Homo sapiens: one gene and its partners. The protein of the gene in region 4 purifies or fractionates together with the protein of the main gene of each other region. This does not show direct contact. Each region holds a gene or a part of one and is shown on either strand. Other genes may lie near its edges.

What was found.
Region 1: the proteins of RCC1 (region 4) and RGPD3 purify together in Homo sapiens (affinity purification with mass spectrometry; 3 studies listed by BioGRID and IntAct, with this or other methods). This does not show direct contact.
Region 2: the proteins of RCC1 (region 4) and AP1S1 fractionate together in Homo sapiens (co-fractionation; one large-scale study listed by BioGRID). This does not show direct contact.
Region 3: the proteins of RCC1 (region 4) and RGPD5 purify together in Homo sapiens (affinity purification with mass spectrometry, with the first as the bait; 3 studies listed by BioGRID). This does not show direct contact.
Region 5: the proteins of RCC1 (region 4) and GLYR1 fractionate together in Homo sapiens (co-fractionation; one large-scale study listed by BioGRID). This does not show direct contact.
Region 6: the proteins of RCC1 (region 4) and DLGAP5 purify together in Homo sapiens (affinity purification with mass spectrometry; 2 studies listed by BioGRID and IntAct, with this or other methods). This does not show direct contact.
Region 7: the proteins of RCC1 (region 4) and NUSAP1 purify together in Homo sapiens (affinity purification with mass spectrometry; 3 studies listed by BioGRID and IntAct, with this or other methods). This does not show direct contact.

The regions. Positions count from the first base shown.
Region 1 is NC_000002.12:106,406,160-106,409,413, forward strand, and holds part of RGPD3 (ranBP2-like and GRIP domain-containing protein 3), read right to left. Parts: intron 1-3,254.
Region 2 is NC_000007.14:101,157,476-101,159,625, reverse strand, and holds part of AP1S1 (AP-1 complex subunit sigma-1A), read right to left. Parts: coding exon 2,141-2,150; intron 568-2,140; coding exon 430-567; intron 154-429; exon of another isoform or gene 71-153; intron 1-70. UniProt on the Homo sapiens protein: Subunit of clathrin-associated adaptor protein complex 1 that plays a role in protein sorting in the late-Golgi/trans-Golgi network (TGN) and/or endosomes.
Region 3 is NC_000002.12:109,835,805-109,839,304, reverse strand, and holds part of RGPD5 (RANBP2-like and GRIP domain-containing protein 5/6), read right to left. Parts: intron 3,487-3,500; coding exon 1,263-3,486; intron 372-1,262; coding exon of another isoform or gene 268-371; exon of another isoform or gene 1-267.
Region 4 is NC_000001.11:28,509,043-28,512,542, forward strand, and holds part of RCC1 (regulator of chromosome condensation), read left to right. Parts: exon of another isoform or gene 1-1,850; intron 1,851-3,500. UniProt on the Homo sapiens protein: Guanine-nucleotide releasing factor that promotes the exchange of Ran-bound GDP by GTP, and thereby plays an important role in RAN-mediated functions in nuclear import and mitosis.
Region 5 is NC_000016.10:4,837,289-4,840,788, forward strand, and holds part of GLYR1 (cytokine-like nuclear factor N-PAC), read right to left. Parts: exon of another isoform or gene 2,964-3,500; intron 2,392-2,963; exon of another isoform or gene 1,955-2,391; intron 1-1,954. UniProt on the Homo sapiens protein: Cytokine-like nuclear factor with chromatin gene reader activity involved in chromatin modification and regulation of gene expression. Acts as a nucleosome-destabilizing factor that is recruited to genes during transcriptional activation.
Region 6 is NC_000014.9:55,185,086-55,188,585, forward strand, and holds part of DLGAP5 (disks large-associated protein 5), read right to left. Parts: intron 1-3,500. UniProt on the Homo sapiens protein: Potential cell cycle regulator that may play a role in carcinogenesis of cancer cells. Mitotic phosphoprotein regulated by the ubiquitin-proteasome pathway.
Region 7 is NC_000015.10:41,374,381-41,377,880, reverse strand, and holds part of NUSAP1 (nucleolar and spindle-associated protein 1), read right to left. Parts: intron 2,170-3,500; coding exon 2,053-2,169; intron 686-2,052; coding exon 577-685; intron 1-576. UniProt on the Homo sapiens protein: Microtubule-associated protein with the capacity to bundle and stabilize microtubules. May associate with chromosomes and promote the organization of mitotic spindle microtubules around them.

The DNA of each region.
Region 1 (3,254 bases), on a different chromosome or scaffold from region 4:
TTTTAATCATTTAAAAATCATGTTTATTGAGGTACAACTTACTTATAGTAAAACCTGCCCTTTTCAGCGTATAGCACTGAGTCTTGACAAATGCACAGTTACGTACCACCACCAACCAAGGCCTGGCACATTTTCACCTCCTCAAAGTTCTCCCTGGCTGCTTCTCCCACTCCTTGGCAACCGCTAACCTGTTTTCTGTCCTTATAGTTCTGCTTTTTTCAGTGTCATATAAGTAGAATCACACTGTACATAGTATTTTGAGTCTGACCTCTGTCAACTGGCATAATGCATTTGAGAATTATCCATGTTGCTGTACTGGCAGTGCATTCTTTTTTATTGCTGAGCAGTATTCAATTGCATGGCTGTACCAGTTTGTTTATTCATTTGCCAGTTGAAGGATAACTGAGATCTTCCTCGTTTTTAGCAATTTTAAAGAAAGTTTCTACGAATAATTGTGTACAGGTTTTTAATTAAATGTTTTGGAGATATAATTCATATACCACATAATTCACCTTTTTAAAGTGCATAATTCACTGGTTTTTAATATATTCACAAGGTTTGTGCATAGGTTTTTGTGTGAATACTGGTTTTCATTCCTCTTGGATAAAGATTTAATTTGGTATTACCCTTCCAGACACCATTCTGTGTTTTCATACGTATATATGTATGACAGTTTGACCTTAGGCAGAGTAGCATTTTCAAACTTTTACATGGGGAAATTTTCTAGAGTTAAAGCCATTTTATTTTTCTGTTCTGTCTGGTTTTATCTGCGTGTTATTTACAATCTGCTGCGTAACAAATTACTACAAACTTAGTACCTTAACACATATTTATTTCACAGTTTCTGTGGGTCAGGAGATCAGAAATGGTTCTATTTCAAGGTCTCTCACAGGGCTGCAATCAAGATGTTGGCATGGCTGGGGTCTCATCTGAAGGCTGGACTGGAGAAGAATCTACTTCCAAACTTATGTGGTAGTTGGAAGAATTTAGTTCCTCAAGGCTGCTAAACTGATGGCCTGTGTTCCTTGCCTCTGGGATGGTAGCTTGCTTCAACAAAGTGTGCAAGCAGAGAAGACAGAGAGAGTCCGCTAGCAAGATAGAAGCCACAATCTCTTGTAATCTATCATTTTTGCTGTATTCTACTGGTTAAAAATAACTCATTAGGTTAGCCTACTGGCTCTCAAGGGGAAGAGATTATACAAAGGCATGAATTTCTGGAGGAGGCAATGAGGGCAAAGAACTCTGAAAAGTCTCTCTTCCACAATCTGAAGAACTTCTAGAAAGTAGAAGGAAGCGATATTGCTTAGGGATGGACAACTTGGCACTGGTTATGTGTTCCAAGTGAGGTAACCTTGTTCCCAGGAATAAAGAGAACCAGATGACTATAAACATTTCCCTAAACTGAAATGCACTGTTGTATGTTCACCTGCAATGAATGGTGTAAGCTGAATATAAGATTTTTGACAAAATAAAAATTTTGCTGTGTTCTCAGATCTGGCAGGCTCCTGCCCTTGTGCAAACAATGTTCCTGGCAACTATTCATCTCCTTAGGTAAATAAGAATTGGAGAAAAGCTGTGCTTAGATAGGGTGCATTTGCTCTTGCCTTGGAAGGCTGTTTTCTGATAAGGTTCTATATCCTCTGCAAATCAAATCAGGCACTTACAGTGTGAGTATGCATTCTCTTCCTGCCAGTCTGGAGATGATCAAAAAGCCTATAACAGGCTTGGCCTATTTTCCTATTGGGTTGCTGGGCTTTTTTTCTTTATTTACTTGTAGAGAGTTTTAGACCTCTGTGTATGTATGGTGTACAAGTGACAATATTCAGATCTGTAAACTGTAACCCAGTCTGGGAGCAAAGAAGATATAGAAAAATGACTTTTACTTCCGGCTTGAGTAGTAAAATTGAGATTCAAATTTTGCATATAGAAGTACTATATGGCTAACTTATTTGGGGAGCAAAGCTGACTTACCATAAGTCTATCTCAAATAGAAATGAAACACTCAATTTGTGAAATATGCTGAGTTTTAATGCGTGTGGGGGCAGGGTGAATTAACATTTGTGATGCAAGGAGAAGAGCAATCTATACTTACCACTGTCTATTTGACATTGTTTGGGGACTACTGCTACACTCTAAGTCATTTTACCTTATAACGCAGAGTTGTAACACGCTACTCTGAGCAGCTCATGACATCTGCTTGAAATTTAAGTTGGGCCCCTAGTATGTGTTTATTATAAAGATTTTGATGCTGCTTTTCAGAGTTGGGTAACCTACTTTACCCCCTAAGCTAATGTTTCCCAAATACACCCAAACCCACAGAAAGGAAAACTATTCCTCATTAACTCACAGCCAACATCATAAACATTTTATATCTAGAGCTGATGATACAGTCAGGTATTTACCAACACTCATGTATATATGTAGAGTGTCAAGAAATAATTGCTTATCCTTAGTAGATTCAACATTAGCCTTACTAGATTCAACATATTCTAATGTTTCACATATTATTTTTATTTCTTAATTTTTTTTTAAAGATGGGGTTTTACTCTGTTGCCCAGGCTGAAATGCAGTGGCGTGACCAGGATTTCGACCAGAAGTTTGACTGCAGCCTCGAACCCCTTATAACAAAGAATCCTGCTGCCTTAGCCTCCCGAGTAGCTAGGACTATGGGCACATGCCACCAGAACGGGCATATTTTAAAATTTTTGTAGACATAGGGTCTCGCCATGTTGCCCAGGCTGATTCTGAACTCCTGTTCTCAAGCAATCCTCCTGCCTGGTCTTCTCAAACTGTTGGGCTTACAGGTGTGAGTCACTGAGCCCAGCTTGTATTCTTTTGATTTTAAAAAAATATTCTGAATGTGATCCACCAAATTAATTTCACCATCCACTAATAGGTAGCAACCTGAATGAAAAATACTATTATAAACTTTACACAAAACCAGAGATTATAAACATTTGCTTCCAAGGACATGAGAGAGGTAAAAGGTACTTGTTTGCTCTGATGGGCCCTGTTTCCTTCAGTGCCAGGAAGAGTGGCTCTCAGACCTTTCTTCTAGCATCCCTCATGTATGCAGTGTTGGTTATTATTTTCAAGGCCTTGGTAACAAAATGCCCCTAGTGTGACCAGTCAGACTGACAGTCCATATCTGTAATATGGTGGTAAGTTTCCTTTGCATGTCTTTCTTTCTGGCATCTTAGACCTTTTACCTAGGAAATTTTCTTTTTGCTTGAAGTACATCATTAAGAATTTTC
Region 2 (2,150 bases), on a different chromosome or scaffold from region 4:
AAAAAAAGAAAAAAAAAAGAGAGGTGGGGGAAGAAATCAGGGAAGAAAAGAATGACCTACCAGGTGCCCCTTCTCCAATTCTCCAAGCAACCCTTAACTCCAGAGCAAACCCTTAACCCTTTGGTGTTAAGCCTTGCTCAGAGAATTGGACAAAGGAGACTGGGTGGCCACGAGACATCTGGGGGCTTGGGAGAAGGACAGAGCTTGGAATGAGGGGTGCACAGGTGGGCTATCTGCCACCCTACCTCCCACCCCATGGGGTCAGGGCTTGAGAGTAAGCTGGAGAGCTGGGCGTGGTGGGGGTCAGATACCACAGGGAGGGGGGGCTCCTTGGCGACGGTGGGCAGGGCAGGCCGGGTGTCCAGGGGAGGGAGGACCCTGTCCGCCACTGTGCGCTTCCTCCTCCTCCTCACTGTCCCTGGCCCGTACCTCTTGCAGTAGGTCAGCCTGCTCGATGGCTTTCAGCACACTCTTCTTGGAGGTGTCCTGGACATCCCCCCCCATCAAAAACTCATCCAGGATGAAGTAGGCCTTCTCAAAGTTGAAGATGATGTCCAGCTCGCACACCTGGGAGGGCGGGGAGAGGCTAAGTTGAGCATGGAGGGGCAACTGGAGCCACTTCCTTTTCAAGACCGTGCCTCCCACCTTGGGTTCTGCCCCCAACCTCCAAGCCTTAGTCATTGGTCAGCTTTTTCAGTTTTTTTGTTTCGTTATTTTGTTAGAGACAGGGTCTCTTGCTCTGTCGTCCAGGCTGCAGTGCAGTGGCATGATCACAGCTCACTGCAGCCTCAAACTCCTGGGCTCAAGTGATCCTCCTGCCTCAGCTTCCTGAGTAGCTGGGACTACAGGTGCATGCTATCACGCCCACCTCATTTTTAAAATATTTTGTAGAGATAGGGTCTTGCCATGTTGGCCAGGCTGGTCTCGAACTTCTGGCCTCAAGTGACCCACCTGCCTCAGCTTCCCAAAATGCTGGGATCACAGGCGTGAGCCACCGCGCCTTGCCTTGGATCAGTTTTTTTCCCTCTTCCTCTTGCATCTTTCCTCCTGATCATGAAACATTAGTTGCCTTATCTACCTTTGTCTATGGTTCCCCTTGCCTTCCCCCCAAAATCTGTGACGTTCTTCCCACCAAAGGCTGTGGTAGCCCCGCTTCCTGGACACTGTGGGGCAGGGAAAGAGGGAATTCTGGACCATGGGGTGGAAGACTTGAGTTCCAAGCAGGGCTCTGCCACTAACCATCTAGCTAAACAAGTCATGAAACATCTCTAAGTCTCAGTTTTCTGGCCTCAAAAATGGGGATACCAACACCTACTGCTAGGATGGGATAAGGAGCAAACGAGAGGACGCAAAAGCACTTTATAACACAAATTATGGAGTTACTACTACGCCCCATCTAAGATCTGAGCTGTCCCTCAGATAAGTTAATTCAGAATCTCTGGGAGTGGAACCTGGACATTGCCATTCAAAAAAATTCTCCAGAAAACTCCAATGCAAATCCAAGATCAGCAACCAGTGATAAAAATCTGAATATGGGGCTGGGTACAGTGGCTCACGCCTATAATCCCAGACTTTGGGAGGCTGAGGTGGGAGGATCACTTGAGCCCCAGAGTTAGAGACCCAGCCTGGGCAACATAGCAAGACCTCATCTCTTAAAAAAAAAAATACAAAAATTAGCTGGGCATAGTGGTGTGCACCTGCAGTCCCACCTCCTCAGGGGACTGAGGCAGGAGGATGGCTTGAGCCCAGAGGTTAAGGCTGCAGTGAGCTACGATTGTGCCACTGCACTCCAGCCATAGGCGGCATTCCTCCAGGTGATAGGGTGAGACTGTGTCTCTAAAAAAATAAAAATTTGAACTAATCAAAACATCTGAACTTGGTCTCTGTGTGAAAAGTCCGAGCTAAGCTCTAAGTGGAGATTAAGTGCCTGATCCTGCCCCCAGTTTCCCCACTCAGGGACGATTATGGGACATGGTTAATAGGCTTAAAGCTTAAAAAGGGAAATTAATTACTGTTCTTACTGCTCCAACTTCACCTCTCCCCTGAAACTTCCAGGGCAGAGACTGGAGGGGCCTCAAAGTTTGGTGGATTACCAAAGGGGATTGCTGGGAATGGAAACTGGTGGGCAGAGGAGACTTACACTGCCAAAG
Region 3 (3,500 bases), on a different chromosome or scaffold from region 4:
TAGTGGCTAAAGATAAACATTAGATAAAACATAGGTCTTCATTGAGCAGACCTGAAATAGCAGAGCAATGAAGTACATTACAAATCAGCATCCCACTACATTTTAAAAAACAAACCAACAAGGGTGTCATGCCACCAGTCAAAAGGTACTTTGCTTAAACTGGCATTCTTTAACATGCATGTTGTAGTGGTAAGTACTTCATTTCATACAGCCACAGTAATTAATACTTTGCTAAGGGCTACCCAGCTGCTAAAAACTGCTGTTATCTCATACTGAGAATGCTAGTTCTATACCTTTGCTCTCAGGCTGTGAGGAAGGGGTGCTAGTCCAAAAGGCCATGGGATTAGATTTAAAAAGGCTAAAATTAAATCCTAGAAAATAAAGAATATTTCATTTTTTAACATTTTAGGAAACAAAATGAATATGCTTTTAAAACATAAAAAGCCAGAATCCCTCAATTTATACCACCAATCTGACTGTCTTACATATTCATTTATCCCTGTAGTTTCATTCTTTGCTCATTTAATACATGAGCAAGACTGACATACAACACATAAAATGAGAACATCTCAATATCATGTTTTTTTTTGTTTTTTGTTTTTTGTTTTTTTTGGAGACAAAGTCTCACTCAGTCACTCAGTCAGGCTGGAGTGCAGTGGCATGATTTCAGCTCACTGCTACCTCCATCTCCTGTGCTCAAGCGATCCTCCTGCCTCAACCTCCTGAGTAGCTGCTAATTATAGGCACGCACCACCATGCCCGGCTCATTTTTGTATTTTCAGTAGAAACAGGGTTTCACCATGTTGGCCAGGCTGGTCTCGAACTCCTGAGCTCAAGTGATCTGCCCACCTCAACCTCCCAAAGTGCTGGCATTCTAGGAGTGAGCCACCGTGCCCAGCCTCAATATCATGTTTTCTGAGTGACAAAAGAAACAGAACAAATGAAAATGAACACTTTAAAAAAAGACTCACGTTAATGCGCATGATTCAAGCATGAGTCCGTACACTGTACCAAGTTCTTTTGCTCTGCCCTAGCATGATAGAAGTATCTTCCAGTTACTGAAATGTCTTTAACTAAGTTCTCTTGCTCTTTGAAACCTCACCGTGAACTTATTAAGGGAGAAAAAAAATTGCTCAAATATTTTGGGGGTGTTCACAAAGCATCGTTTATATCCCAACATTAGTATCCCACAAAGAGTCTGCATCAAGCTAAACATTAAAAGAAAGAAAAATTGTGCTTAACTTTAACAACAAAGTACCTACCCTTTTCTGGTGTTTTAAATGTGTAGTTGATTGAAGATTCTTCCGTTGGAAAGGAAGCAGAGAGATTTTTGACTTTGCTATCTGAAGACTGTTCGATATCAGAGTTCTTTGACAGTTCACATTTTTTAGGTTCCACTTTGCTTTCAGATCCACTCTGGGCTACTGAACTAGTTTCACTATTGTTACTTTTCAAAGGTGCATTAAAACTAAATCCAAACAAAGACCCAGTGGCAGAACTGTTGCCAAATACAAATGGTTTTGATTTTTCACTACTAAAAATTCTTTTAACAGACTCTGAAACAAATACAAACTTTGGAGGAGAAACCACTGCTTTTGTTGTTGTTTCAGATGTGCTAGACACTTCAACTTCTGAAGCTGCATCTGCTACATCATCACCCTGAATAACATCTGTCCTCTCTCTTGTGGTTTCTTCTAATATAGCTACAGCAATTTTGCCACATGGTGACTCTCTGGGAGTGCTTGACCGAGAAACATGAGGTGTTATCAAAGAATCTTTTTCCTGGGCTGTTTTTGCTTCATCAAAAATTTTCTTAAACGAGTCTGCAACATCCTGTAGTTTAAAACGAACAGCTAAATGCTCTACTTTTCTTTCTCCATCTGCAAAATCACATGCAGTCCACACCCATACTCTTTCTGTCCCTTTCATATTTTGCAAACTCATGTCTGGAGTTATTCTGTGATTGGCACAAAGTTTTAATACTTGGTCCCTTCTCATCACTATACGAACTTGCTTATTATCATAATTCTGTAAAATCTTTATATCACCAATGCCCCTTTCTTTCCATTGACCAACATCTTTATCATATCTGTAGATTTCTGCCCTGTGACTAAAAACAACTTGTTCATTTTCCTCACCACTGGATACTTCAACTAGATCAGGTAAAGGAACAACAGGTTCAAAGTACTGTCCATCTCTCTCTTCTTCTTGAGTAACAACAGATTCTTCATCAGTGCCAACTGAAGTCCCACTCTGATTCAACTTGGCAGGAGACTTAGATAGACTCAAAGCAGATTTAAAACTGAAGTTAGATCCTGTTGTTGACTCATCAAAGCGGAAAAGATTTTTTCTCACAGGGCTACTTGCCAATGGAGAAGCATGTACTGAGCTACTACTGACACTATCATCCAAAGCATCTTCCCTTAAGTCATAGTTATCCCATTCTAATGTGGGCCCAGTGTTTTCAGCATTGGGTTTTATTGTTGTGTCTGAGGCACCGGCCGCACCTGTACCTGAACCCTTATTTTCTTCCTCAGTGACTTTTGTTTGATCATTTGTCAAAAATGTTTTGAAATCTTTCAGTCCACTCTTCATTTCTTCAGCTCTCTGTATTAACTTGGCAGCTCTGCCAGTATCTACAAGTTTATGGGGAGTTTGAAGTGGTATGTCTAACAGAAGCCGCTGGCATTCCTCAAATTTCTGCTTGAATTCTTCAGCCAGCTCTGGTGTTTTAAATTTTGCTGCCAACCGCTCTAGTTTGGCATCACCGTCAGAGAAATCACTGGCTGACCACATCCATGCTCTATCTGATCCAGAGAGGGGCTTCAGGTTCATTGTAGTCGTTATCCAATGATTAGCACACACTTTTAGTACTTGTTCTCTTCGCATCAGCATTCTTAGTTTGCCATTGACCTCGTTTTTGAGAATTTTTAAGTTCCCCAAGCCCCTTTCTTTCCACTGCCTTACCTCAGCATCAAATCTAAATAGTTTTACCCCCTGTGAATACAGAACTTTTTCACCTTCTTCTCCTGTTACAAGTTCTACTTTTTCAGGCATTTGAACTACTGGTTCAAAATGGATGTCATCGCTGTCCTCAGTCTTATAGGCATCATCATCTTTCTCAAAGTCACCGGAAGTGTTTGCTTTATTGGCCATTTTACCGTATCGTGATGAGAATAATTTTTCTCCAGCACCTGAAAATCCCTTGAAATTGAGGTCTTTTTTGCCAAACTGAAATCCTTCTCCTGAAGTTGATTTTGCAACATCTGCAAATGTAAAAGTGCTACTTGTTTGGCCAAAAATCACACCACGGCCCTTCTTCCGGCCACTAATATCCTGAGCCTGGAAGCCAGTATCATTTTCAAGAGGCTTTTCCCTTTTCTTTTCTTGATTTCCTGGTTCCGAAATGCCAAATTTAAATCCATCAGCAGACACAGGGATGGAAAATCCTTCTTTGGTTGACTTAAATTCTGTATTAGAAGAACCCTGAAACATAAATG
Region 4 (3,500 bases):
GGCTGCAACCTCAGCCTCCCAAGTAGCTGGGATTACAAACATAAGCCACCACGCCCAGCCCTCATACCTCTTTTAAAAGTCGACCTGTTTTGCAGAAAGTCTGCTGTTTTTGTACTAAAGGCTTTGGAATTTGGCATTTAGCTAGGAATGCACATTCTTTCACCTCATTCATACTTTAAGAACCACAGAAGTGACTCTGCTTGGCCAGAAGGCACACTGTGTTGGTGGTTATATTAAAAGTCCTTGAGTATTTTGCTTTTCATGATCTTGCTCACTGCAACTTCCGCCTCCCAGGTTCAGGCGATTCTCCTGCCTCAGCCTCCCAAGTAGCTGCGACTACAGGCGTGTAGCACCACACCTGGCTAATTTTTGTATTTTTAGTAGAGATGAGGTTTCACCATATTGGCCAGGCTGTTCTCAACTCCTGACCTCGTGATCCGCCCACCTCAGCCTCCTAAAGTGCTGGGATTACAGCTGTGAGCCACCCTGCCCGGCCACTTTTGTATGATTTCTAATGTATTTGTAATTTACCTAACAAATTGCCTAATCTGCTATGTTAATGTATTTATGAATTAAAATAAATACGACTGCATGTTTGTGGTTCATTTTTGTGGAGGTGGCTGTGGTGACATCAGCCAAGAATCTGAATGGTACTGTTGAAGGAAACTAGCATGATAGCTTCAGTTCTAAAGGCCCTGAAACCTAGTCTCAGGTGGGTCCCCCTTGGGTTCACTTTATATTGGCAGTTTATTGGGAAAATGGATATTAGGTCCTGACCAATAGGACCGTAAGTCTGGGTTGAGTGCAAGATGAGTTAGACCGATTCTTTAGCTTCCTGCAGTGTAGTGGAGGAAAAATCGATGGTAGCAACGGGAGGTTGTATCCCTAGCTGATGAGTTGTATGAGCCTCTACTACCTGGCGCACCTCCGCCTGAAGATTGCCAGAATTGCTTGCCTCATGACGTGAGTCACAATGGAAACTTTGTCAAGCCCCCTGCACTGGCTGCCAACATAAATGTTCAGTACCCTGAAGGATGGGACTGAAGGGGGATCATCTAGAAGGTAAAGTTACCTACTGGCATAGGGGAGGTGGGACAGCCGTTAAGCCATTTGGAACTTGATGGAGACAGGTTTGAGGGAGGTGGGTGAGATTGGAGTTTGGTGGACTGTAGAGCTTGCTTGCCAAGGTGTTGAGGTCAGGGTTGGTTTGAGAATGGAAGCTAGTTACTAGCTATGATTGTGGGGGAACACAGCTTGATTTTTCTTACAAGCTAAGAGGAGTGAGGCAGTGTTTAAGAGGGCATGTTAAATGCAGCCAGGCTTGGTGGCTCACACCCGTAATCCCAGCACTTAGGCTAAGGCAGGCGGATCACAACATCTAGAGATCCTGGCCAACGCGGTGAAACCCTGTCTGTACTAAAAATACAAAATAACTGGGCATGGTGGTGTGCACCTGTGGGAGGCTGAGGCAGAATTGCTGGAACCCGGGAGATGGAGGTTGTACTGAGCTGAGACCTTGCCACTGCGCTCCAGCCTGGTGACAGAGTTAAGTCTCAAAAAAAAGGCATCTTCCTAAAGCAATTGTATTTGTGCTTACCTGTGCCAGGCACTGTTCTAGGTAAGCACTAAGTGGGCTTTAATACAGCATATTCCAATGGGGAATCCCAGGAACCAAAAGACTAATTGTCCAAGTCCACAACTAGAAGTGGCACCTCTGCAGAAACAAGCATCAAATTCCCTGCTCAGGAAGAAGCCAGATGAGTCAGCCCCATTCGTCTGTATGCCCAGTCCCATCCGTGTCCTGCTGTAACTACATAGATCTCACCTGAGTAAAGTGATTTTTTTCTGAACCAGTGGTTTTAGTATGTTTTCAATCCATATACTCAGGTGGGTTTGGGTAACTGCAGTGCTGGGCAGGAAATGAATGAATTTCTATTGACTTGCAAGGTAGAGGTGAAGCAAAGCTGTCAGTAGGTGTTCAGGTCCCACTCTGCTAAACTTCAGCTTGCAATACCCCTTTTTTAGACTTTCCAAACAGGCACTTCTGGCCTTGTTCTTTGTGTAGGCAGACAGTATTGGTTGCCTATCTTAGGAGTACTAGACTGGGTTTGAATCCTGATCCCACCACTTGCTGTTCATGAGACTTTGGGTGAGTTACTCAGCCCCTCTGCCTCAATTTCATGTTCACAAAATAAGTGATAAACTACCTCATAGAGTTGTAATAAGGACAAAGGAGTTGGTATTTGTGAAAAGATTCTTAGGGTCTCTAGATGGAGTGCAGCAGCATGATCACTTATTAAATAACATTCTTTTGTGACTTCTCAGAAACCAAGGATACAGTATCCAATTTTTTGTTTTTTGTTTTTTTTTTTTTTTGAGAGGGAGTCTCGCTCTGTCGCCCAGGCTGGAGTGCAGTGGCACAATCTCAGCTCACTGCAAGCTCAGCCTCCCCAGCAGCTGGGACTACAGGTGCACGCCGCCACACCCGGCTAATTTTTTTGTATTTTTAGTAGAGAAGGGGTTTCACCATGTTAGCCAGGAAGGTCTCCATCTCCTGACCTCGTGATCCGCCCACCTCGGCCTCCCAAAGTGCTGGGTTTACAGGCGTCAGCCACCATGCCCAGCTTTTTTTTTTTTGAGATCTAATCTCACTCTGTCTCCAGGAGGGAGTGCAATGGAGCCATCTTGGCTTGCTGCAACCTCCACCTCCCGGGTTCCAGCAATTCTCCCACCTCAGCCTCCCAAGTAGCTGGGATTACAGGCGCACGCCACCATGCCCGGCTAATTTTTTTTGCATTTTTTAGTAGAGACGGGTTTCACCATGTTAGCCAGGCTGGTCTCGAACTCCTGACCTCAAGTGATCCACCTGCCTCAGCATCCCAAAGTGTTGGGATTACAGGCGTAAGCCACTGCGCCTAGCCTCAAGCCTGATCCTTTTTTTTTTTTTTTTTTTTGAGATGGAGTCTTTGCCTCCCAGGCTGGAGTGCAGTGGCGTGATCTCAGCTCACTGCTACCTCTGCTTCCTGGGTTCAAGCGATTCTCCTGCCTCAACCTCCCAAGTAGCTGGGATTACAAGCGCCTGCACCGCACCCGGCTAATTTTTGTGTTTTTTTTTTCAGTAGAGACAGGGTTTCGCCATGTTGGCCAGGCTGGTCTCAAAACTCCTGACCTCAGGTGATCCACCACGCCCGGCAGAGCCTTGATCTCTTAACCACTATCCTCACCTCCCCTTTCCCTAAGGATCCACAATGGCCTCACTGGCTCTTGAAGGCAGGCTGGCACCTTGATCATTCTTCCTGGTCATTAGTATTCTGATCTGGTTATTTTCCATTTTATGTCCATCTAACCTACTTGGAGGATCCTCAAGAGACTGCATATGTAAACTCAGTACTTATTCTTGTACTGTGCCTGCCATATAGCAAGCACTGGCTGATTTAATTTTTCTGTGTTCTTTTTTATTGATTTGTTTTTATCTTTATTATTTTCTTTGCTTATTTTGG
Region 5 (3,500 bases), on a different chromosome or scaffold from region 4:
CAGTTGTGGTAGCACACGTCTGTAATCCCAGCTACTTAGGAGGCTGCGGCAGGAACTGCTTGAACCCGGGAGGTGGAGGTTGTAGTGAGTGCAGATCGTGCTACTGCACTCCAGCATGGGCGACAGAGCAAGACTTGGTCTTTAAAAAAAAAAAAAGAAAATCATACATGTAGATACTGTATATTAAAGATGTCAGCCTATGACTAATCTTGAACGCTGTCACATGTGTTTCAGCCTTCACATAGACAGGTGACCCGGGGTGAAGCCGTGAAGCTAAGAGAAAGAGAAAAGGAGAAAGGACGGGGAGAAGATGGCAGGGGGAGGGAGACAGACAGAGAAAAAGCACACACACACAAGCATAGAGTATAAAGGTGAGAACAAGCCGGCACGGTAGCTCACGCCTATAATCCTAGCACTTTGGGAGGCCGAGGTCAAGAGATTGAGACCACCCTGGCCAACACGGTGAAACCCTGTCTCTACTAAAAATACAAAATTAGCTAGGTGCGGTGGCATGCGCCTGTAATCCCAGCTACTCCGGAGGCTGAGGCAGGATAATCGCTTGAACCCAGGAGGCGGAGGTTGCAGTGAGCCAAGATCGTGCCACTGCATTCCAGCCTGGCGACAGAGCGAGACTCCATCTCAAAAAATAAATAAATAAATAAATAAATAAATAAATAAATAAATAAAGATAAGAATAAAAATACAGGTGAGAACAAAGATGGGGCCAGAAGGTGTGGGTTTGCTTCTCCATTTGGATTTGGTGAATACTTAGTAAACAATTTCTATGGGTGCCTTTTTAAAAAAAATCCATCCAAAGGGGCTGAAGATTACTGAGGTGTTACAGGCCAAGTTCTTCAGAAATAAAGGCACCAGAAAAAAACACACACAAATCAGGTGCCAGGTGAAACGAAAAAGGGATGCTTCCAAGCTGCTATGCTTCTAATTATTAACCACATATTCTTCTAGAGCAGCTACTTTCAGTACTGACTCAGACACCTCACATCCAGCGAGACCGGTCCACCTTAGATGTGGCTTGGTGGAAAAGGACCACTGGTCTCTCAGTTTCCTCATCTGTGAAAAAATAAGAACCAGAAAGATGACCCTGTGCACTTCCTGAAAGGGCTGCTGTGAGGACTGGAGGGGAAGACTGCTATGGAAACTCGCAGGTAGGCACTTGCAGCTTCTCCACTGTTTGTCCACAATCTGTTGAACCGGTTGGTTTCTGGTGGCTTCTAAGCACCTGTAATTTAAATGAACACTCCCTCCATTCCATCATCATCCACAGCCACTGATGAAACTTTTCTTTTTTTTTTTTTGAGACAGAGTCTCACTCTGTTGCCCAGGCTGGAGTGCAGTGGCGCGATCTCGACTTACGGCAAGCTCTGCCTCTGGGGTTCACGCCATTCTCCTGCCTCAGCCACCCGAGTAGCTGGGACTACAGGTGCCCGCCACCACGCCCAGCTAATTTTTTTGTATTTTTAGGAGAGACGGGGTTTCACCATGTTAGCCAGCATGGTCTTGATCTCCTGACCTCGTGATCCGCCTGACTTGCCCTTTGAAAGTTCTGGGATTACAGATGTGAGCCACCGTGCCTGGCCAAAACTCTTCTTTTTTAAAAGACAGGGTCCTGCTCTGTCACCCAGGCTGGAATACAGTGCCTCAATCACAGTTCACTGTAGCCTTGACCTCCCAGGCTCAAGCGATCCTTCTGCTTCAGTCTCCCAAGTAGCTGAGACTACAGGTACATGCTACTACGCATGAACCCTCTCACCTGTGTTTCAGCCTTCGGATAGACAGGTGACCTGGGCTGAAGCCGTGAAGCTAAGAGAAAGAGAAAAGGAGAAAGGGCGGGGAGAAGATGGCAGGGGGAGGGAGACAGACAGAGAAAAAGCACACACACACACACAAACACACACACAAGCATAGAGTATAAAGGTGAGAACAAGCCGGCATGGTAGCTTTAAATTTTTTATTTTTAAATTTTTTGTAGAGATGGGTCTTGCCATGTTACCCAGGCTGGCCTTGAACTCTTAGGCTTGAGTGATGCTTCTGCCTCTGCCTCTTGAAGTGTTGGGATTACGGGTGTGAGCCATCACGCCTGGCCCCGATGAAACTTTTAAACCGTGAGCTCTGTCTCTACTCTGATGGGGGGGTCACCACTAATCAGACCTGTCAGAGAGGGACCCTCGTGCACTTGACACATAATCTTTGGTTGTAGTCACCAAGTGAAGCTGGCAGGGTTTTGCTGAAATTATATCCCCTTCGTATTTCCATGAAAATACAAAAATTACGTGGGCAGTTTTGTCTTGGCCATCTCGCTCAGGGAGCCGAATCCGTATAAAGAAGTCCTCCTCTCACCAGGACACCTGATTAGGAAGGTCTGGCCCTCTCCTAACAGTGGGATGTCAACACAATTTGTTAGATATTTTGGCAGAGATGTGGAGAGAGAAAAATCAGGTTTCTAAAAGATTGTAATCACTGATTATCTTGTCATAAGGAGCCGTTCTTTCTGCTCTTTAATAAAAGACCTTGCAAATATTAAAAAAGTATAACTACACTTTTTTTTGCCTAAGTAGTGTGTCAATTTTGAAACTGAACATCTTTGACCAAATCCTGTATTTCTCAGGAACGGAGGACACTCCACTGGGTCAGACCCTATCCACCTGGGCCAGGGTCCAGTAACCAATGGTGCCCCCACCCAGGATGTGCCTGGACCACATGCCCCCTCCCTGATGTCAAGTGTTAAAGGCGAGGTGCAGTCCAGCTTCTACAGGAGCCACTTATGGCTTTGTCTTCACAAGTTAGTTCTCATCCCTAAAAAATCCCCTTGCAATACCTGTTTACACCACCTCTTAAACGCCCCTTTTATGCAGTGCTCCTCACCCTGGTCCTAACACAGTCATACCACAATCCACTTGCAGTGCCCATCGCCAAACTCCTCTAGGCCATTCGCTGTTTCCTACCTCCTGATCCCGTGATTCCTTCAGTCTTTGCTTTTCCACATTGAAGAGTCCTGCTCTTTTGTCTGACTCAGTTCCCTTTTCTGGATCTTGGCCAATTCTAAGAGATCCCTTTGAAAGCATGATCTGAAGTCCATAGAGTATTCCTGATGAGGCGCATACAGTTTTACATAAAGGTGGAATGATGCATGGTTTTGTACTCAAAGCCTTTTTGGTAAAAAGAGCAAACCTGGCTGACATCCTTTAGGAACTTCCAACTCTCATATTCCTTTCTTTTCAAACAAACACACACACACACACTCTCTCTCTCTCCCATAGGGAGAGTCTCCATCTCTCTCAGTTTTCCATACTTAAAGGCATCCTGGACCAATGTGTGCTAATACCTGCTGTATGGCAAGCCACACTCTACACAAGAGATACTACTTTTCCTTCCTAACTATGAGGTAGGGGGTATCATCCCCTTATGTAGAGGACACAGAGGCTCAGAAAGGTGAAATAGCTTGCCCAAATCAGGGAGCAAGGTGGAACCGGTACCTGAAT
Region 6 (3,500 bases), on a different chromosome or scaffold from region 4:
ACAAGCATGCGGTAATTTCTCCCAACCTACATCCTCATCTAGCACTTATTTTTCTAGTCCCATTTAAGGCAAAATTCTTCAAGAGAGTTACCTGTATCTCTACTATCAACACTTTTATTTATTTATTTATTTGAGGCAGAGTCTCGCACTGTCGCCTTGGCTGGAATGCAGCGGCGTGATCTCGGCTCAATGCATCCTCGGCCTCCCGGGTTCAAGCGATTCTACTGCCTCAGCCTCCCGAGTAGCTGGGATTACAGGCGCCCACCACCATGCCCAGCTAATTTTTTGCATTTTTAGTAGAGACGGAGTTTCACCATTTTGGCCAGGGTGGTCTCGAACTCCTGACCTCATGATTCACCCACCTCGGCCTCCCAAAGTGCTGGGAGTACAGGTGTGAGCCACCACGCCTGGCCTTTTTTGAGACAGAGTCTCACTCTGTCGCCCAGGTTGGAGTGCAGTGGCGCAATCTTGGCTCACTGCAACCTCCACCTCCTGAGTTCAAGCAATTCTGCCTCAGCCTCCCTAGTAGCTAGGATTACAGGCATGCGCCACTGCGCCTGGCTAATTTTTGTATTTTGAGTAGAGATGGGGTTTCACCATGTTGGACAGGCTGGTCTTGAACTCCTGACCTCAGGTGATCCACCCACCTTGGCATCCCAAAGTGCTGGAATTACAGGTGTGAGCCACCAAGCCCAGCCTATTTCCAACACTCTTTACATTCCCTCTCTTTTCAAAATTATGAAAAACTTCTAATATACACACAATTATAATGAACCCCATATACCTATTACCAAGATTCAATAATTATGAACATTTTGCTGCAGTTGTTTAAAACAAATTATGCTTAGAAGATTTCATCTCTAAATACTTTAGTATATACTTCTAAAAAATAAAGACATTTCTGGAAGGGTGCGATAGCTCACGCCTGTACTCCTAGCACTTTGGGAGACTGAGGTGGGCGGTTCATCTGAGGTTGGGAGTTTGAGACCAGCCTGACCAACATGGAGAAACCCTGTCTCTACTAAAAATACAAAATTAGCCAGGCGTGGTGGTGCATGCCTGTAATCCCAGCTACTCAGGAAGGCTGAGGCAGGAGAATCACTTGAACCCGGGAGGCAGAGGTTGCGGTGAGCCGAGATCGTGCCATTGCACTCCAGCCTGGGCAAGAAGAGCAAAACTCCGTCTCAAAAAATAAAAATAAAATAAAATAAAGACATTTCCTTTCATAGCCACGATATCATCATCACACTTAACAAAATCAGCAGTAATTCCTTGTTATCTATTACAGGGTCCAGATTTAAACGTCTCTATTTGTTTCAAAGAGGTCTTTTAAACCATCTGTTTACTTAAATCAAGAACCAAGTAAGAGCAACACGTTTTATTTGAATGTCTTTTTAAATCTCTTCATCTAAAACAGATCCTCCTCCCCACTCTTCTTTTCATGCCATTGTCTTACTGACAAAAGGTAGTCAGTTTTCCTATTGAATGTCTTTGCAAGCTGTATTTGTTTATTTACTCATTCCTCCAGGCTCCATGTTTTCTACAGACTACAAATTATATCTAAGGGTTTGATTATACTCATCCATTCCAATCTTTCACTCCCTGAACCTCACTCCACCAAAACTATTCAAGATCACCAGTGACCTCCACAGTGGTGAAGTCCAAATTCTCACCTCTATTATACTTGATCTAACAAGCAGTACTGACTAACATAGTTAATCAGTCTCTCCTCGATATGCACTTTTCTACTCGGTTTCTAGGATAGCACGTTCTTCTGGTTATCCTCTTACATTACTTTGCATTGTTCCTTGGTTCTTTACTAGTTTTCCCTTGTCTTTTTTTTGAGACGGAGTCTCACTTTGTTGCCCAGGCTGGAGTGCAGTGGTGTGATTGGCTCACTGCAACCTCCACCTCCTGGGTTCAGGTGATTCTCCTGCCTCAGCCGCCCAAGTAGCTGGGACTACAGGCACGCGCCACACCCAGCTGATTTTTGTATTTTTAGTAGAGATGGGGTTTCACCATGTTGGCCAGAATGGTCTTGATCTCTTGACCTCGTGATCCACTCACCTTAGCCTGGGGTACTGGGATTATAGGTATGAGCCACCGCATCTGGCCCCTTGTCTTTTAATACTTTAGTATCAACTAAGTTATTGCAGTAGTCTACTTACTGCTCTCCCTGATGTCATACATACCACCCTATAATCTATTCTCAACACAGCAGCCAAAGTGATCCTTTTTTTTTTTTTTTTTTGAGATGGAGTCTCGCTCTGTTGCCCAGGCTGGAGTACAATAGCGTGATCTCAGCTAACTGCAACGTCCACCTCCTGGGTTCAAGCGATTCTCCTGCCTCGGCCTCCTGAGTAGGTGGGATTACAGGTGTGTGTCACCACACCCAGCTAATTTTTTTATTTTTAGTAGAGATGGGGTTTCACCATGTTGGTCAGGCTGGTTTCGAACTCTTGACCTCGCCATCCACCCGCCTTGGCCTCCCAAAGTGCTGGGATTACAGGCATGAGCCACTGTGCCCGACCTGATCCTTTTCTTTTTTTTTTTTTTAGGAGACAGGATCTCCATGTGTGGCCGAGGCCAGAGTGCAGTGACTTTTCACAGGCACCATTGTAGCACACTGAAGCTTCAAACTCCTGAGCTCAAGATTTCCTGCCTCAGCCTCTGGAGTAGCTAGGGCTACAGGCCTGACTCCAAAGCGATCCTTTTAAAACATGAATCAGATTACATAAACACCCATTAATGGCCTCTCATTTCAGAGTAAAAGCCAATGTCCTTATAATGATGGTCCTTAGGATTCTATGTAATCTATCTCCCTTGCTCATTCTTTTCTACCCAGTTACCTACTTGCATTCACTAAAACATATCAGGCACACTCCTACCTCTAAGCCTTTGCAAACGGGAAATAAAGGATATTTTAATAGCATACTGAGATAGTTAGACTTTAATTTGAAAGATTTTTGGTTAAGAAATGGAGCATTTGAGAGGACAAGATGAGAAAGGAACCACCCTTTCTCAGATAAAAAATGTTTGGTTCTTTCTGCCATTCCCTATTTATCCTAGCATTATTTCAATGCCATCTAGCTCCTAACGCCTGCTATATGAACACAACAAATAGGAGTAGGGTGACTCCTGACTAAACACAAGTCATTTCTCAGTTTGCTTTCTCTTTTCTGTAGCATCCTTTGCCTTCTAAGATGCTCTATTTTCATCTTTTTCTGAGATTATTCCTTTCTTCTTTAGTTGGTTCTTTCCATCCTAATGGTCCCAATCCTTCTGGGCAAACTGCAAGGATGAATTCTTTGCTCTTTTCTTACTAATGTTTCCATTGACAAAGTACTCTCATTTCATGGATTCTTTAATTATTCTATTTTTACATTTCTTATCAATTTATCTTGTCAACACTTATCCTACCCAAGCTCCGTAAGAACTTTAGGATTTCTATGAAGCAATATAGATAATAAAGTGTTATAATACTCCACAGGTAAAGGCTT
Region 7 (3,500 bases), on a different chromosome or scaffold from region 4:
TACAGGCGCCCGCCACCACGCCCGGCTAATTTTTTGTATTTTTAGTAGAGATGGGGTTTCAATGCGTTAGCCAGGATGGTCTCGATCTGACCTCGTGATCTGCCCCCCTCGGCCTCCCAAAGTGCTGGGATTACAGGCGTGAGCCACCGTGCCTGGCCCATGATACCACTTTTTTTTTTTTTGAGACGGCGCCTGGCTCTGTCACGCAGGCTAGAGTGCAGTGGCGCGATCTCGGCTCACTGCAAGCTCTGCCTCCTGGGTTCACGCCATTCTCCTGCCTCAGCCTCCCGAGTAGCTGGAACTACAGGCGCCCGCCACCATGCCCAGCTAATTTTTTGTATTTTTAGTAGAGACGGGGTTTCACCGTGTTAGCCAGGATGGTTTCGATCTCCTGACCTCGTGTTCCGCCCACCTCGGCCTCCCAAAGTGCTGGGATTACAGGCGTGAGCCACCGCACACGGCCATAATACCACTTCTAACCTCCTCTTAAAACACCACTATTACTGAGCCCCTATCCCTCAGAGGTGCTGCTTTTGAAATTAAAATAATTATAAAGCTGGATAATTATGTACTTACTTTGTCTGGAGATGGGGTTGTTTGTAAGTTTTCTTGTAGAAGTTAATTCTGTTGACATGTTGATTTAGATAATTATTTTCTTTAGATTGCCCCCATGGTTTTAGCTTTCCTAGTTTAGGACAGAGACAAAGAATTTTAAAAAGATTGTTTGATTTATATTCCCAACTTCATTCTCTTCATCTGTGGGGTTACCTGCTATCAACATTTATACTTTTTTTTTCTTTGAGACAGAATCTCACTCTGTCGCTCAGTTTGGAGTGCAGTGGTGTGATCTGATCTCAGCTCACAGCAACCTCCGCCTCCTGGGCTCAAGTGATCCTCCCAATTTAGACTCATGAGTAGCTGGGACTACATGCACATGCCACCATGCCCGGGTAATTTTTGTATTTTTTAGTAGAGACGGGGTTTCATCATGTTGCCCATGCTGGTCTTGAGCTCCTGTTCTCAAGCAATCTGCCTGCCTTGGCCTCCCAAAGTGCTGGGATTACAGGCATGAGCCACTGTGTCCAACCAATTTGCAATTTTACAAAAAGAACTGGGACCAAATTTCTTGAAGTTTATGTGTTGCTTTTTTTTTTAATTTAAATTTAATTATTATTATTTTTTAAATTTTTTAGACAGAGTCTCGTTCTGTCGCCCAGGCTGGAGTGCAGTGGTGTGGTCTCGGCTCACTGCAAGCTTCACCTCCTGGGTTCACACCATTCTCCCACCTCAGCCTCCCGAGTAGTTGAGACTACAGGCGCCCGCCACCATGCCCAGCTAATTTTGTTTTTGTATTTTTGGTAGAGACGGGGTTTCAATGTGTTAGCCAGGATGGTCTCGATCTCCTGAACTCATGATCCGCCTGCCTTGGCCTCCCAAAGTGCTGGGATTACAGGCGTGAGCCACCGCGCCCAGCCTGTTTTTGAGGCGTGGTCTCACTATGTCACCCAGGCTGGAGTGTAGTGGTGCAATCTCGGCTCACTGCAACCTCTGCCTCCTAGGTTCAAGCGATTGTCCTGCCTCAGCCTCCCAAGTAGCTGGGATTACAGGCGCCGCCACCACGCCAGGCTAATTTTCTTATTTTTTTTCAGAAGAGACGGGGTTTCACCATGTTGGCCAGGCTGATCTCGAACTCCTGACCTCAAGTGATCTGCCCACCTCAGCCTCCCAAAAGTGCTGGGATTACAGGCCAGAGCCACTGCGCCCGGCCGCAGAATTTGTTTATTCTTAAGTTTTTATTTTTTATTTTTATTTTTTAGATGGAGTTTCACTCTTGTTGCCCAGGCTGGAGTGCAGTGGCACGGTCTCGGCTCACTGCAACCTCCACCTAACAGGTTCAAGTGATTCTCCTGTCTCAGCATCCTAAGTATCTGGGATTACAGGTGCCTGCCACCACGCCTGGCTAATTTTTGTATGTTTAGTAGGTGTGAGCCACTGCGTCCCACCAATCTTAAGTATTTTACAGGCCCTGTAGCTCAAAACACTCCCACATACCTTTGTGTGGTTCATAGTTGAGGGGACGAGACAAACTTGCTTTAAGATCAAACACTGGTTTCTTATTGGAGACTGGAGTCTGCGTTGCCTCAGTTGTCAACTTGAATGGGGTAATAACTAAAAACACACCGAAAAAACCCAAGAGCTTAATTAGAAACAAAGACCTGGTAAAGTGTTTATCAAAGTGTTACTTCTCAATCTTAAAAATACACGTTATAGGCTGGGCATGGTGGCCCACACCTGTAATCCCAGCACTTTGGGAGGCCGAGGTGGGCGGATCACGAGGTCAGGAGATCAAGACCATCCTGACCAACATGGTGAAACCCTGTCTCCACAAAAATACAAAAAATTATCTAGAGGTGTGGTGGCTCACACCTGTAATCTCAGCACTTTGAGAGGCCGAGTCGGGTGGATCACCTGAGGTCAGGAGTTCAAGACCAGCCTGACCAACACGGAGAAACCCCATCTCTACTAAAAATACAAAATTAGCCAGGGTGGTGGCACATGCCTGTAATCCCAGCTACTCGGGAGGCTGAGGCAGGAGAATTGCTTGAACCCGGAAGGCGGAGGTTGTGGTGAGCTGAGATTGCGCCATTGCACTCCAGCTTGGGCAACAAGAGCGAAACTTGGTTTAAAAAAAAAAAAAAAAAAAAATTAGCTGGGCGTGGTGGTGCATGCCTGTAGTCCCATGCCGAGTAGGCTGAGGCAGGGGAATTGCTTAAATCCGGGAAGCAGAGGTTGCAGTGAGCCAACATCGTGCCACTGCACTCCAGCCTGGTGACAGAGCAAGACTCCATCTCAGAGAGGGAAAAAAAAAAAATTAGCTAGGTGTGGTGGCACGTGCCTGTAATCCCAGCTACTCGGGAGGCTGAGGTAGGAGAATCACTTGAACCCGGGAGGTGGAGCTTGCAGTGAGCCAAGATTGCGCCATTGCACTCCAGCCTGGGCAACAGGGTGGGACTCCATCTCAAAAAAACAAAAGAAACAAACAAAGAAAAAAAAGAAGCTGGGTGCAGTGGCTCACGACTGTAATCCCAGCACTTTGGGAGGCCGAGGCAGGTGGATCATGAGGTCAAGAGAGCGAGACCATCCTGGCCAACATAGTGAAACTCCGTGTCTACTAAAATACAAAAATTAGCTAGGCGTGGCAGCGTGTGCCCAAAATCCCAGCTACTCAGGAAGCTGAGGCAGGAGAATCCCTTGAACCAGGGAGTCGGAGGTTGCAGCGAGCCGAGATTGCACCACAGCACTCCAGCCTGGCGACAGTGAGACTGTGTCTCAAAAAAAGAAAAAAGTTATAGCTTGAATGTTTGTATCTCCTGCGATCCCAAATTCATATTGAAATCCTAACTGTCAATATGACTGGTGTAAGGAAGTAGGGCCTTTGGGAGGTAAATAGGTCATGAATGGGATTCAGGGCCTTATATAGGGACCCCATAGAATTTTCT